2 separate regions of the Homo sapiens genome follow, and region 2 is linked to region 1. A link means that fine-mapping ties the variant in region 1 to the expression of a gene that starts in the linked region. Tissue or cell type: pancreas. Region 1 holds a variant in brackets; the other region holds the start of a gene. All regions are shown on one strand. Distances are from middle to middle.

What was found. PIP is the estimated chance that this variant, and not a neighbour inherited with it, causes the effect.
Region 2: it holds the start of SUCO, and the variant in region 1 is fine-mapped to the expression of SUCO in pancreas (GTEx, PIP 0.98).

What each region holds. Positions count from the first base shown.
Region 1 is chr1:172,453,514-172,461,418 of GRCh38, reverse strand. C1orf105 (chromosome 1 open reading frame 105) reads right to left here. Exons shown (of 7, transcript NM_139240.4): 4 at 4,930-5,004. Among named protein-coding and RNA genes, the nearest start is that of PIGC, 13 kb to the right of the region's middle. The variant T/C (reference allele first, on the strand shown) is at 3,701.
Region 2 is chr1:172,528,578-172,536,482 of GRCh38, reverse strand. It overlaps SUCO (SUN domain containing ossification factor), which reads right to left and starts at 3,333. Exons shown (of 24, transcript NM_014283.5): 1 at 2,986-3,333. The coding sequence starts at 3,047. RefSeq lists enhancers at 2,945-3,104, 3,715-3,964, 4,025-4,134 and a silencer at 3,225-3,394.

The sequences.
Region 1 (7,905 bases):
AAGATGTGGGTGCAGGTGTTCAACTACTCTACTCACTAAGTGACTTGTACCAAGTGACTCATGATTTAAGTTTATGACATAACAAAGTTACAAATTACAATGTATTAAGGACCTTTAGAGGTGCTTGAAAATAGCAAAAAAACTGAATGCAAAGGCTATACAAATGCCAAGAATGTACTATGTTTACTCAGCTTGTTCTCCTAACTCATTAGCTGAAGAAAGGATGGGAGAGGGAGAGGAAGGAGCTGATCTGGTAACAAAGAGCCTCTGGGCATAGTGGGGGCAGCCAAGGCTTTAGTAAGAACCTGAGGAGAGATTTCTAAACATAAAAGTGGCTGAGAATGTGCCAGAGACAGACTGCTTTATTCAAAAATTTATCTAAAGTTGACTCTGCTCCAAGGGAAGATGCAGGAAACTGTAACTCCTCCTGAATAGCATGATTGCTGTTCTAAATCCCCTAAATCCAGCTAGCGCTATTGTATGAATGAACTGTGCTACAGGGGCTGCATCAGAACAAAGCTGCCTGCCAAAGACAGGATTTTTGTTTTTGAGAAAAAGTGTACTGTGGGAGACTCCTATTCATTCTTGAAAACCCTGAATAGTCTTTTTCTTCAAGGAAGACTTCCTTGATATTTACTTTCACTGCCCCTTCACTCCCCATCAGATCTATTTCTGTTTATATTGATTACATTCTGTTGTCATTATTTATTTATTTGTTGACTCCTTAAAGACAGGTCTTATGTATTTCTTTTTTTTTCTTTGTAGTTTACCTAAGTACCTGGCCCATGGCAGACAATCAATCAATATTTGTTGAAATAAACTTAATTTATTTTGAAACTATTTTTTAATATATGTTAGAGAATATCTGTTTACAGTTGTCTAGCTTGATGGTCCTACTTTTAAGGGGCTTGAAGGTGTTAATTAGAGAGTAATGCAGATAACAGAAGGACTACAGAATAGGTGCATTAAGGGGAAGATGAGCTGTTTGGAGCAGAGACATGATGAAACACAGCCTAGATAAAACCAAGGCAAATATCACTGGTGATTCACAACCATAACTGTCAGCAGGTATTTCTTCTGCACTGAATGATTGAGCTTCTAGCCCAAGGTTACATAGGAATATGAGTAGTTACATAACCAGGTCCTATTTACATTTTTTTGAGATTCATCTATTTTGTGCTTTTATTTAGTGCTAATTTCTTTTTATCGGTGTTTATGATATCATGTATCATAAGTCACCATCTTAATGTGCAATTTAGTAGTTTTTAGTATATTCAGAAAGTTGTAAAACAACCACCATTGTTTATTCCTAGAACAGTTCATGACCCCAAAAAGAAACCACATACCTATTAGCAATTGCTTCTCACTCACTCCTCTCCCCAATCTTTGACAACCACTGTCTATTTTCTGTCTCTGAATTTTCCTATTTTGGACATTTCATATAAATGGAACCAGTATAATATGTGATCTTTTGCATCTGGTTTCTTTTACTTAGCAAAATGTTTTCAAGGTTCATCCATGTTATAGCATGTTTTAGTATTTCATTCTTTTTTATGATTAATATTCTATTATATAGATAGACAACGTTTTGTTTATCCATTAATCAAGCCCTAGGCATTTGGGTTATTTCCACTTTTCAGCTATTAAGATATGGCTGCTATGTGCATTCTTGTAGAATTTTGTGTGTGAATATGTTTTTAGTTCTCTTGGGTACATATCTAGGAATGGAATTGCTGGGTCATATGGTAACTCTGTGTCTAAGGTTTTGAGGAATTCCCAAACTGTTTTCCAAAGCAACTGTACTGTTTTACATTCCCATCAGCAATTTTTGAGGCTTCTAATTTCTCCACATCCTGGCCAACACTTGTTATTATCCACCGTTTTATTATTATTATTATTACAACCATCCTAGTGGATGGAAAGTGTGTCTCATTGTGGTTTTGATTTGCATTTGCTTTACAACAAATAATGTTGAGTATCTTTTCATGTGTTTATTGGTCATTTGTAGATCTTCTTTAGAGAATGTCTATTGAAACTTTTTGCTCACTTTTCAACTAGAGTGTTTGCCTTTTTATTGTTGAGTTTTAAGTGTTCCTTATATATTCCAGATACTAGTCCCTTATCTGACATAATCCTTCATCTGTTGATTTGCAAATATTTGGGTTGTCTTTTCGTGTTCTTGATGGTGTTCTTTGTGGAACAAAAGTTTAAAATTTTTATGAAGACTGATTTATCTATATCCTTTTGTTGTTTGTGCTTTGGGTGTCCTATCTTAGAAACCATTGCCTTATCCAAGGTCATGAAGCTTTATACCTATGTTTTCTTCTAAGAGTTTTATGGTTTTAGGTCTTACATTTAGCTCTTTGACCTATTTTGAGTTATTTTTGTACATGGTGTGAGGAAGAGGTACAAATTCATTCTTTTGCATGTATCTATGCAGCTGCCCCCGTACCACTTATTGAAAATACTATTCTTTCCTCATTGAACTGTCTTGGTGCCTTTGTCAAAAATCAATTGTTTATAAACATAAGAATTTACTTCTGAACTTTCAATTTTATTCCATTTATCTATTTGTCTATCTTTATGGCAGTACCACACAGTCCTGACCATAGCTTTGTAGTTAGTTTTAAAATCAAGAAGTATGAGACCTCCAACTTCGTTCTTCTTTTTAAAGATTGTTTGGCTATCCTGGATCTCTTGCATTTTAATATAAATTTTAAGATATGATTGCAAATTTCTATAAAAATGGCATCTGGGATTTTGAGGATTACATTAAATATGTAGATCAGTTTGGCGGAGTATATTCATCTTTACAATATTAAGTGTTCCAATCTATAAACATGGGGTTCTTTCCATTTATTTAGGCCTTTTAAATTTTCTTTCCACAATGTTTTATACTTTTCATTGTATAGCTCTTGTGCTTCTCGTGTTAAATTTATTCCTAAATAATTTTTGATGCTATTACAAATGGCATTGTTTTCTTCATTTTTGGGTTGTTCACTGCTATTAATAGAAATTAAGGTTTATATACTGATCTTGTATCCTCAACACTGCTGTACTCATTTATTAGCTCTAATAGTTTTCTGTGCATTCCTTAGGACTTTCGCTATATAAGAGCATATCATCTGCAAATAGACTAGTTGTACTTCTTTCTTTCTAATGTGGATGGATTTTATTTCTTTTTCTTATCTTTCTGGCTAGAATGTATAGTAAAATGTTGAGTAGAAGTGTCAGGAGCAGACATTGTTGCCCTGTTTCTAATCTTAGGGGAAAGTATCCAGTCTTTTACCATTAAGTAGGGTGTTAGCTGTTAGTTTTTCAAGCTGCTCTTTATTAGGTTGAGGAAGTTCCCTTCTATTCCTAGGAGTCTTTTTATATATTCCCCAGTATTTCTATTCAACTCACTGCTGAGAAAGAAGGGGTATCACAGTGACTACAGCAGACCTGCAGTCCCTCCCCTTGGGAGGACTTTGAGGTATTACTGCATAGAGTGAGGCAAGGATATTTCATGTTTATTTTCTAACTTTCTGTAGTTTATCACCAGGTTCTGACAGCAGTACAGAAGGGTCCCTGGGCACTTTTGTGTTTGAAGCCCTTCCTTTTAGAAGCTTCAATAAATGGTAAAATTGCAGCATGTGGCTCCACTTCTATCATTCCTGGACAAGGGCAAAGGTCAGAGAAGAGGTCTTGAGAAAGAGGA[T/C]GGCTGCTGATGTCCCAAGTGTGCCAGCTGGCCAAGGCCAGCTTAGGCCTGGGGTTGGTGCATTCTAAATGTGGACACAAGGGATTCCAGGAATAAGACCAGGAGAAATCCCAATCCTAGTTTCCCAGACTCCAGCCAATGCTAATATTTAACACAGTGACCCTAATTATGTAGAAAATGAACATAGATGGCAACATCAAGGTGCAGCTTTGCCGGTAGCTTCAGTTAAATTTGTAAATCCCACATAAAAATTTCACAAAAGTGCCACTCTCTTTCACATCCGACTGGACCTAAGACTTGCCATGAACTCAGTGAAGGAGCTTTTCTTATATCTTCTATTTTTCTTCCATTCTTTTAAAGCACGTTTAGCCTACACATTTAGCCCCACCTTCCTCCCCAAGTCAAAGGAGAATTATAGGATATCAGAGTTGAAGAAACCCTTCTCCAGCTCGTACCTCAAACCTAACCATGTTGCTAAATTAACCCTTAACCAAAGCCTCTTCCTTACCCTGACGCTAACAACCATCCCAGCGCTAACTCTAATTCTTAAATTACCGAAGGCCTAACTCCAGCCTAGTCTAGCATCCTTCCTGAATCAGGCCTCTGATTCAGCAACTGTGATAGATGGCATGGCAGAAGTTTGTCTTTGTTCCCTCCACATCTCCCTTGCTTTCCTTCTTTCTTTTCCTAATATTCCTCCCCTACCACCATTCTCCACTATATGTTACAAATACCCAAAGCAGGTGACACCGCCCCTGACTACCTAGAAAGTACTGTAGACTCTCTCCCCAGTCTTTCTCTTGAGGTGCTACCTAAATTAACAGTAAACCCAAAGATGAAGCTGTTTGTCTCCTGATTGTAACGGTGGAGAAATGAGTGTGAGCCTATGTGTTGTGTGGGGGCTACATTAAGGAGGGAGAAGGAGCTCCATAATCCCCTAAGCCTCTGAGAGGCTGTAGTTACTTAGGAGCCCAAGGCGAAGTGTCTCATTGCATCTCTACTCTGGCCCATCTATCCTGGTTACCCTTTAGCTTGTTGAAACGGAGAAGGTTTATCATGTTCTGTCAGTCGATGCTGCTCCCAGGACCAACAGTTCCTCCTTGGCAGCCTTTATCTAGGCCCTCCTTGCAACGGGCCCCGTCACTATCTCTCCCCACAGGGCTTGGCTGGGAAGGGCAGTGCTGCACCCTGAGATGCCTGTGCCCATTTCTGTCTTCCCCCTTGCCTACCATTTTCATTTCTTGACATGTGGAGCACAGCTGTTGGTTTCTGAGCAGCATGGAGTCACACTGGTTCCTCCTGGCCTGAGGGGAAAGAGAGACAGAGAGAGGTGAGGAAATGGTGGGGCATGTAGGGCAGCAAAGATGTAGGAAAGCAGTGGAGGGGTGAGAGAGGTAACAGTTTTTCCTTCCGTAAAACAGAGATGGGCACTCTGGTCTCAGCCCCATCCAGGGTGGGTGTTGAATCTGGAGTGTGCTGCAGCTGGTAGGTACCGAGAGTTTAGGCAGGAGGGAGTGAGACATAGGCTAGGTGGTGGTCTTGAGGCTGCTGCATGCAGTGGTATACATGTAAAGACAGCTGGCAGAGATGGCTGGGGCCTGAAATTCAGTGGGGTCTCTACTTTCCAGCCTGAGCACCTGTGTCTGAGGGGTTGCATTCTCCTATAGGTGGGCCATTTTTTCCATTTCATAAAAAGGCTCCACCATATAGACTGAGGATCTCTGATGGCCTAAGAAAGAATGAAGAGAAGACTTCTCTTCTGCAAATCTTTTTTTCACGGGCCTTTCCTAAGCATCGCCTTCCTTTCTCATGCCTTAACTCTGGGCCAGAAACAGCTCTCATGCATCCATGGTCCAGCACCATTTGGCCCTTCTGTACCTCCTAAGCAGAATGATTGAAGCCACAAGCAGAACTCAAGCTTGTGTGTGAGTCCTGAGTCCCCTCAATCCTCTGGGAAAGAGAGGCTGTCTCAGTAGGTGAAGAAGCAATCAGTGGAGGAAGGGGAGGGGCACCGTGTCTGCTCACTGTAACCACTGGTTTTTATTCTGACTTCATTTCTGCAAAAGCATTAAAGAGAGGACTTTGGAGCATTTACACCTGGGTTCAGGAGGTTCTCATTTGCATCTCTGATAAAAGTTTGCTTAGGAAGCATATAGGAACTTGAGGCTAAACTTATGTTTGGGATTCTCTCTTAACCTTCCTCATTCACATTGACATCAGTCATGAGATATGGTCACAGAAAGTGCAGAATATGGGGAAGAGGAAAGCCACAGTGAGAAGACTATTGACTGAAGTCTTCTCTTTCCTTTGATCCGCTTGCTGGCCCATCACTACATGGTGTGCCTTGACCCATTCCTGTTGCCCTGGGAAGTGTGGGGAACAGAAAGAGGAGGAACAGAAAGTGAGGAGTTCCTGAGGTGTGCTCCTAGGATGACCTTTGCCAGATTGTTCTGCAAGTAGCTTCATCCTGTGAGAGACATATGGCACTTAGGTGATGCATCATGGGGGGTTTGAGGGCTAAAAACTGTTAACAAAGTTGGATTCTTTTGAGAAACATTTAAAATACACTTCATTTTTATAGGGCATTCTAAAAAGAATCAACTCAGTATTACAATGTTGTGGGTTGGTATGTCAAAGTATGTGTGTGAATAACTAGATTCATTCATTCAACAGTAAACATCTATTGTGAGGCTACCAAGTAAAGGGTGCTGTGACGGGGGTCATACCGACGAATAAAGCAAAGTTTCTGGAAGGAAGTTTCTAAGGAAGACAAAAGAAGAATACAAATTCATTCATTTACCCATTCATTAGGTACTGGAGACATTTAAATAAATAAGACATAGTTTGTGACCTCAAGCTGCTCACCATCCAGTAGCCTATACATCAAGAAGTATGATGGTGTTGAAGGTGCTACAACAGAAATATATCGAGGCTCCAGTGAAGCTGAAAGGGGTCATTGAGCTTAACTGGGGGTGGGGCAGAGAGGGAAGGGTCTGAGAAGGGTAAAAAAAAACAGGCAATGCTTGGGTAGGTGTTTGTGGAGTGAACAAGGATGGTGAGGGTGTTGCAAGCCCAGGAAACACTATACAACAACCTGGAAGAATAATCTAGCAAATCAGCTTCGGGTAAGTGAATGTAGGTTGGGATGGACAGGTTGTCTGGTGGGAGGTTGAATGGAGTGAGAAGAGAGACTAGAGAGGAAATGTCTGTGGATATTGACTCCTCTGCTTTGGGCTGATTCAACTTTCTACCATGTCTTCCTGATACCCCTGGGGGTGATATCCCCTGAAGCTCCAGCTCCTCCCTCCATCCCTCACATCTTTGAGGTATGAGAGTGAGGTACATTTCTGAAACTGCAATTAAGGTAGGACACACTAGATATCATACAAGAGGCACTAATACCTCTGTGCCTTCAGAAAACAGAGAGACCACTTCTGATTGGAGAAATCAGGAAAGGCTTCCTAGAAGTGGAATTTGTACTCAGTCTGAAGGGATGAGGAAGACCTGGACAAGGGGAGGCAGATATGGAAGAATTCTTGGGCAGGTTTGTTTTTAGTAGAGATATAAGTTCTTCACTGAAATTATTTCCTTCACCTTTTTCCAGACTTCTGGTTTCTGCTAAGACTACTATTAGACCCTATAGGAAGTGGAATCTCAGAGCTCATTGCAAATCAAGCAACAGATATTATTTGCAAGATCCCCAAAGTGCATTGCAAGATCTTGCTAGGTTAATGACAACTGTAAATGTGAGTACAGAGTCCCATAACATAATGACTGTCATCTCTTAGAATCTGAGGGATGAAATGCTTATATATTGTCCCACCTGGCCTTGATAGCTACTCATTTAAGACATAGTGTAGGTGTTACATCCTCAGAAAACCTTTCTCCTGGGCTGCTACCATTTCTCACCCTCCTAACCTCAGTTGGGTGCCTGCCTCTTTGATTGCATCATAAACTTGGTCTAGCTTTCTTTGTATTTGCACTATTCTTGATTTTAAATGTGTTTATTTCCTCCACCGGGCTGAGAGTTATTATATTTAAGAGCAAGAATCATGTTTTACACATCTTTGTATTCCTAGAACCTATGATAGAACCTGGCACACAGCAAGTATTCAACAAACATTGGGCAAATGAATGAGTCATTGTAAGCAATTTAAATTATGAGGTCTAAATATAGACACAATCAACCTAAATATATAAAACGA
Region 2 (7,905 bases), 75 kb before region 1:
ATGTTATGATGAAATATTTACATAATACGCTGTTACTGTGTTACAAAGATCTGTCATTTGTATTATTTCATCCTCCTAACAACCCTGTGAAGTATGAATGGATCAATTTCCCCATTCTGAGGATATAACAACTAAGGTTCAAAGAAGTTACATAACAAGTCAAAGAACACATATCTAGTAAATGATGGAGCCACATATATAAAATACAGGCCTCTGACCTATAAAGTACTCAGGAGCCTGTGCTGCCTAGGTTCAAATTTAAGCTCCGAAGCTTAACAGCTGCTTAAACTTAGCCAAGTTAACCTCTCTACTTCCTCACATGTAAAATGCAAAAGGAAGTTAATAATAATACCTATCTTATAGGGTTCTTATAAAGATTAAAGGTGTTATTGTCAAGTAAACATCATGTGTCTGACACACAGCTGTCAGCAAATATTAGCTATCATTGCTCTGTGCTGCAGCTATAGTGCATTTATGCCTAGAATACTCTATACTACTTGATCAAAAATTATAAACTATGCAAAAGGAAAAAACAGCAACAAAAATTAATAATGACATAGATGAAATGGTTTTTCTGTAAACATAATCTAAGGTTAGTACTCAAGGCTACAAGACAAAAGCAGAGGGGAGACATAATCAAGATCTACAAAATTATGATAGTAAACATAACACAGTAATATTGGTAGCATGAGAGGGGAAACCTCAGAAACTAGAATACTGTAGAACAGACATACAGCACTCAATGTACAAAACAGAAACGGATCACAAAATTTTGAGACAATTTGTGAATAACAAAAGAGACAAAAGTGGCTACTAAAAGGCACTCATCAACTCTTGCAAACGTTTTATCTAACCCTAGGACTTGTTGGTAGCCATTTCTGTTAAAGGGAATGAGGTTGTTGGGAAAAGAAATACCACACCAGATTGCAGCAAAAGTTAGAAATCCATTAAGTGCCATTAATTCCAACTTGGCACAAAAGCAGAGGCTTCAAAGAAAAAACATACCCTTTGCCAATCAGCACCAGGTACCACTCCTCTTCCCCAATCTCATTCATCATCATCACCCTTTAAAAAACCCTTTAAGCCTTAATGTCCTATTTTAATGCCTTTTAATCGTTTTGCTAAAGAATAATTAAAATGTCTCTAAATTTGGCAGTCTAAACAAATCTCAAAATATACTAACCCAATAGTTTCTTAAGCTAAAGTTTCTTAAAATGTTCACACTCTTAAACTCTCCACATCCATTTTCCTCACTAGGAGTTAAAAAACTTGACAGAAGTTTATTACTACTACTTTCAATACCAGGCCAACCGATTTGTTCCCTAACAGGGAAATTCATTAGCTCTTCACTAGAGCTAATGATTGAAGGTGAGAAAACATACTGAGGGTTAGCTTAATCAAAAGATAGCCAGAAATTCCCAAAAGAAATAGAAGCAGAGTTAACTTAAATTTACAAATGATTGTAAGAATCACATTCTATTGCTTGATTTCGTTTACACCATCCAATTAAAAAATTAAAAAAAGCCAGAGATACTGGTGTGTTTTTAAACTTGAATGAAAGTGTTCACCTTTTCCTTATTAGCCATTTCAGAAACTTTTGATGATGAATAACATGGTTTAAAGATGGGCAAGACCAAGAAGAAAGAGGAAAGAAAATACACAGTCTACAAATATAACTAGGCAGCCCCAGAAAGAGATGGAAATGAATACAAGCTTCAGTATCTACAAATTTAAATTTAAAATGAGGTGAGTGGATTTATCTCTTACAGGCACTTCTCCGTACCCAACACAGTAAGTAGAAAGGGGAGGATTTTATTAAAAACAGGAGACGGGTATTAAAAGGATTCAGAATGAAAGGTAATAAGTCAATTGTTTTTGTTCTCAAAAACTTCTATCATTCTTCCAATAAAAATCCCTCAGCCAGGCGAGTGTTTTCTCTTCCCCTTGTTTATGTATTATTTTATGTGAGCAACAACTCTACAATTTCAGTGCTTCTGGAATCCATAAGGCATCCATAAAAATGAAAATAGTGTTGGTGCTTTGCAGAAATAAGCAAAACAGGAAACTTAATTTCTATTTTAATATAACAAACAGCAAATCGCCTAGACTGAAGAAGCATCTTTTCAGTCATCAATTGTCACACATCTTTGAAGAAATTCCCTGGGAGGAAAGAATGGCTTTTCCAAGTACGGTGACAGCAGTCCCTCGACTTACAAGCTTTCTCTGCTCCTCAAAAAACTCCAGAAGTGCCTGGGATTAACAGAAACTCCGTAAAACTTAAGGAGTGCTTTAGGGACAAAGCACTCTTCCCGCCTTGAAAATACAGCATTTACCTTCCCGTCACTAAGGGGCATTACCAAAAACTACTACACACACTACATCTAAGACACCCTCTCCACCAAACCAATTGAAAAAGTGCTTCATAACACACATACACACACGCCCCCCAAGTTTCCAAAAACAGCGGCCCGAGTGTACTTGGGATCAAACGCTGTGCGAGAAATGTCCAGGAGAACTACTGCTTATACATTACTCTTACCTTCATGACCACTCACGTTTTAAAATCGCACGTCCGGAACGCATCACATCCGACGTGCTTTATCCCCTTACCACACTAAGAACGCAAAGACTGGCGGCAAATCGGAGCAACTTACTTACCATCAATCTGAACACCCACCCCAAACCCTGCACCGTCTCCAAGGGGTAGAGGAACTGAGTACAAAGGCACTTGGTGGTTCCCTCTACCTTGGCACCTCTCTCTCTCCCACTGAGTCTCTGTAAATTCCAAAATACACCATGAAAATCTCCGCACAGAGCACTACCAGACCAGTCAGATGGAGAGTCGAGAAGTAATCGGTTTGTCCCTTCCACGGGGGCCTTGGAAACCCGGACCCTAAAAGCCAAAATGACCAGGGGGTGTGACCTGGGCTGCTCCCTCCCATTTACTCCCCTCACGGGAACTCCCTTGTCGTCGCGGCTACTCACCAGACCAGAGAGCACAGAAAGAGGCAGGAGACCAGGGCCAAGGCCCGCCGGTGCTTCTTCATCTTCTCCTCCTTCTTCCCCCTGCCAGAAGGCGGCACATCCTCCCGGCAGCCGCCACTGCCGAGGCCAAGATGGAGGAGCCGGAGCAGGAGCGCGAGAATGTGACCGATAGTCCTAAGGGCTATGGCGCTGGCTGAGCGGCTCCTCAGTGGCTCGCGTCCTGGCAGCCCTCTCTGAGGGCCCCACAGAGGCGCGGACAGGGGCGCTTCACAGGACTCCGGGGACCGCCGCCGCTGCAGCCACCGGCTCGTCCACGCCCGCCTCCTGCAGCCGCCACTGCCGCCCCATATCCTCCCCGCCCGCCGGGGGCCTTGCTCCGTGAGGCCAGCGACCAACGGCCGCCGCGTACTCGCCTCTCAACAGCCAATCGCCGGCGGGGCCGCGACACCTCACACACCGCTGAGCTGGAAAGGGACGCGTCACCCAAGTCCCGCGGCGCCCGCACCCCCACCAGCCTCTGCGCAGGCCACGCCCCCTTCGACGTCGCAGGCGGAGAAGCCGGAGGCAGGAGACCACAAAGCGCAGGAGCAGATGCTCTCGCCGCTCCGCCCGCCCCAGGTCCCGCCCACTTGCTGGCTTGCGTTCAGAAAGCCGGGAGGAGCCCAGTGATCCTCAGCATTTCCCCTTACAGTGGACCGCCCTTCGTCCCTCGCGCGCTGAGTCCGCGCAAGGGCCTTTGGGAGTTGTAGTTTGCCTTCCAGAATTCGTTTTTCTCTTTCCCAGTCCCTCCTAGAATCCATGGTTTTGTTAGAGAAGTCTATAGTTTCGCTGCTCACCACGAGACTGATCAGCTTTGGAACTGTTGCACTGTTTTCCTCTTTTGAGCACAGTTCGTGGAATGGCCTAGAATGACGTGTGTGTTGTGAGGGAAGCTGCACCAAGCCCTTTCCCTGTGGCAATGGACTGCCCCATTGAGCTAGATGTTGATTGGTAGATAGAAAGGGGCGTGCCAAGAATCCTCTCATCTGATTGGTTGCAGCGGAAAACCTTTCGCTTTTTCTTCTCTTCAGCAAGAATTTCGCCGCTTGCCGGGTTCCTCACTTTAAGTGTGCTTCGTTGCTTTTCGTTCTGTTGGTTTCGAACTTTGGGTTCTCTGCGATGGAGTCGGAAGGGAGGAGTTGTCCCCATTAGAGGAGCACCCACAGACGCTCCAAGTCCTGGGGTTCACCTAAAGTGGGGAAGGCAGTCGCTTACACTCACCTAAGAAGAGCAAAAAGTGACCACTTCTCAATACTAAGTAACGGGGCAGCATGCCCATTCCAAGTGTTTACGCCGCTGAGGGGACGGAGGCTGCAATGGTCTGTGCCTTGGAACATGGCATAATGTTTAGTGTGAAAAATGTTTAAAGGACGGGTTACTTATTGTTCATGTGGCCGTAGGGAAAAAACCCTCAGTAAAATGCCCACCTAACGCCTAATTTTGAGCCGCGGAATTTCCTTATGAACCTTCTAAGTTGAATTGGATGTTAATTATAGTCCCAAAGAACTGAATGATTTGATCCGCTCTGTGATTCTTGGATATAAGTCAATTTGATGTTAGAGAAATTATACAAAGGGTGATAATTTTTGTTTTAAAGGAGTTCACCCTGAACTGCCTTTTCTGGCAGTAATTAGGTACAGTTCCACTTATCTGCTGATGCCACTCTTAGTATATGACAATAAAATCCTTTCATCTGTCACCTATTGCGGGAAGCAAGTATTTATCTCACCCAAAAACAGTATCAAATGATTAATATGCAAGTTTAAAAGAAAGTAGGGGCAATGAAAGGGTAGGGATAAATTGACATTCTTTACCATGTTGGACACTCTTTTCCTCTTACTCCAGGAACTTTTATTCAGGATAGGAAACAGCTGAGGTATCCCTCAGCTGATCCTCAGTGCATCACAGCCAAAGAAGTTATATTAGAATACGTGCTTATCTCAAATCTAGGAAGTTATCAAGTTACATCTCCTAACCCTCTCATCCCAAACTCACAAACCCATCCACTTATTTTCCACCAAGTCCCTGCAATGATTTTTTGAAACATGCAAGTACAAATAATTTTACTTTTTTCTTTCTCTTTCATTCCTTCCTTGACTGCCTGCCTGCCTTCCTCCCTTCCTTCCTTCCTTCTCCTGCAGTTGGAGCTTTATTAATACCCCCGTGGTAGGCTTTCCATTCACCTAATTATCATCCAATTATTAGCTTTTACTATTTCAATCTATAAATGTTCTTTTCTCTTTTTGCAGCTTCATTTCCATGGTTTCATGTTAAGGTTTAATCCTTCACTACTCCGAGCTTTTTCCATTTTTCTCTTGAGCAATTTTAATTTTCAACTATACTGTTGACTCCTAAACCTATATCCCATCCTCTTTTCAAGTAGTTGCTGGACATATTATTCTATCACTTCCAATTTTACCTGCACAAAATTGAACTCATTTTCCCCATAAATTAGCTTCTTCACGTGACTTTCTATATTTGTGTTGATTCTTTCCTATTCTAAGACTTCAGATGAAATAAATAGAAGTTCCATAGAGCTGACCTTTAAAGAACTGGTAGACATTTTTCCACATATCTGTTAAATATAATGAGAAAAAGAACAGAGAAAATTTTCTTACAACTCAATAGACAAGTATAAGAAAGTGAGTAATAGTTATATAAAATAAAACTAGTATAGATGAATGTCACCATACTTAAAAGTATAACATATGCCAAAAATGGCAAGAAAGAATATAGAAAAAGAGCATGTATAATGTATAATCTTTCATATATAATATTTAATTATATATATAATCTTTTAAGGCTTAGGCTAAGTAACCACTATCAACCACCCCTTAACTATAATACAGTAATTCTCAACCTGGGGCAGACTTCCCCCCAGGGTGAGATTGGCATTGTGTGAACACATTTTTTGCTTGTCACATTGGAGAAGTACTACTGGCATCTAGTGAGTAGAGGCCAGGGATGCTGTTTCACATCCTACGGTGCACAAGAAAGCCCTCCACAACAAAAATTATTTGGCCAAAAAGTCAAAAGTGCCAAGGTTGAGAAACCCTGCTGTAACAGAATCTCCCAATTCAATAAAATCTATAAAGCACTGACCACACACAGGATAACTCGTTTGCCCTGCAGATCCTTGGATTATTCAGCAAGTCACTAGGGCCTAAACTGCACAATGAACATGAGTTCTCCCATTCCTAAAAGGGTGACTAAACCAGAAACTCTGGGCAGCTCAAGTCCCTGCCTTGATAAAGATCAGATACTCTGTTTGCTTATGGTAAAAGAGAACAAGCAGACCTTAGAAAAGGAACCAACCCCTTCTGGCTATCTCGTTTGTTCTTTATCTCATATACAAATCATATTTAAGACACCCAAGAGAACTGTGTTGTCTAAGATGGTGGTATTTCATGAGCAAGCTTTTATGTATTTTGATTTAGTTGAAAAATTACCTGCTCCTTTCAATATTACAAAATGCTGAGATCCTATATGTCTCCAAAGGATCTTAGAGACCAATGACATTTAGATGCTTCCAGAGTAAAAGTCAGTTAAAACAGAAGTTTCCTGGAAATCAGTCAAAGAAAGGTTGGGGAATGGAAAACAGACAAATGGACAATAAAAGAGACTAAATAAGATGGAAAAATGGTGAATGTGGCAATCAGCACTTAACATTTTAACCGCATAAAAAGTATAAACAGAACTTTTAAAACTGTCCCCCCGATCATCTTCTTTATATATATAAATATGTGTGTAGAATAGCATATACCTTCTTTATTTAGTTACTACCTACCTGAAAAGAGCCTTAACTACTTAGCCTAATCTACCTTAACAGAGCACTGGTAATTTGGCCACTTCAGGAGGTAAAGGTAGAAATCAGAAGAAGACATAGATTGCTTTATTAGTACAGTCTGAGAACTCAGTCTCTTGAGGGCGGGAAGATCTGAGGGCGGGAAGATCACAGAGTGCAATGTTGGCATGCACGGTTCTGTTTTTACTGCAAATAACAAAAGGTAAGATTTCCCTTTTTAAAAATTCTACTTTGTGATCCCAAATTCAGTCTTCTATCACTGCGTTAACATATGTTTATTTTGAAGATACATGAATTGAATAGGCTCATAATGGAATCAACTAGAGGAAGGGAATGATTACATGTGGGTGACAGAGAAGGAGACATCAAAGATGGTCCAATTTCTAAGAACGTATGTGCCATTATATGAGTAGGAAAGTCAGGAGTTGCAGATTTACAATTTAAGAGACTAGTATGGTTTTGGAAGCACAGTATTGAGGTTCTGGTGGAAGTATCTAGCAAGAATTTACAAGTACAAGATTCAAAATAGGGAGAGAAAGTAGCAACTGAAGCAGCATGTTGGGGATTGTAACTGATGCGTCCTTTAGTACCTCCTGTATAACGCTCTCAGATGAAGCTTCCTAAAACATTATCTTCATCATGTCCTTTCTTTGATGCAAAAATCTCCTACAGGTCTGACGTATTTGTGAAATAAAGTCCTGCCTCCTTGGCCTGGCATTCAAAGCTTTCCATAATCAAACCCAGTTGATGTAGTTCAAGCTTTATTTCCCACTGTTTTCTTTCATAACTCAACCTTCTCACCAGACCACACTGTTTATTATGACCTGAAACACCTGTGCCTGCCCTCATGACACTGTTTTTATTTAATAGTCATTTGTCTCCCCAAGCAGTGAATAAATTCCTTATTGCAGAGAGGTCATGTGTTTTATTGATATATATCACACAGTGACTTTTTTTATTACAGAGGCCCAAGAAATAATTTTTTACTTTTTACTTATTTCTTTGTCTAATCACCTTAAATTACAATTTGCCTTATAATTTAAATTCCTAGAAGTAGCAAGCCCTTAGGATGAGAA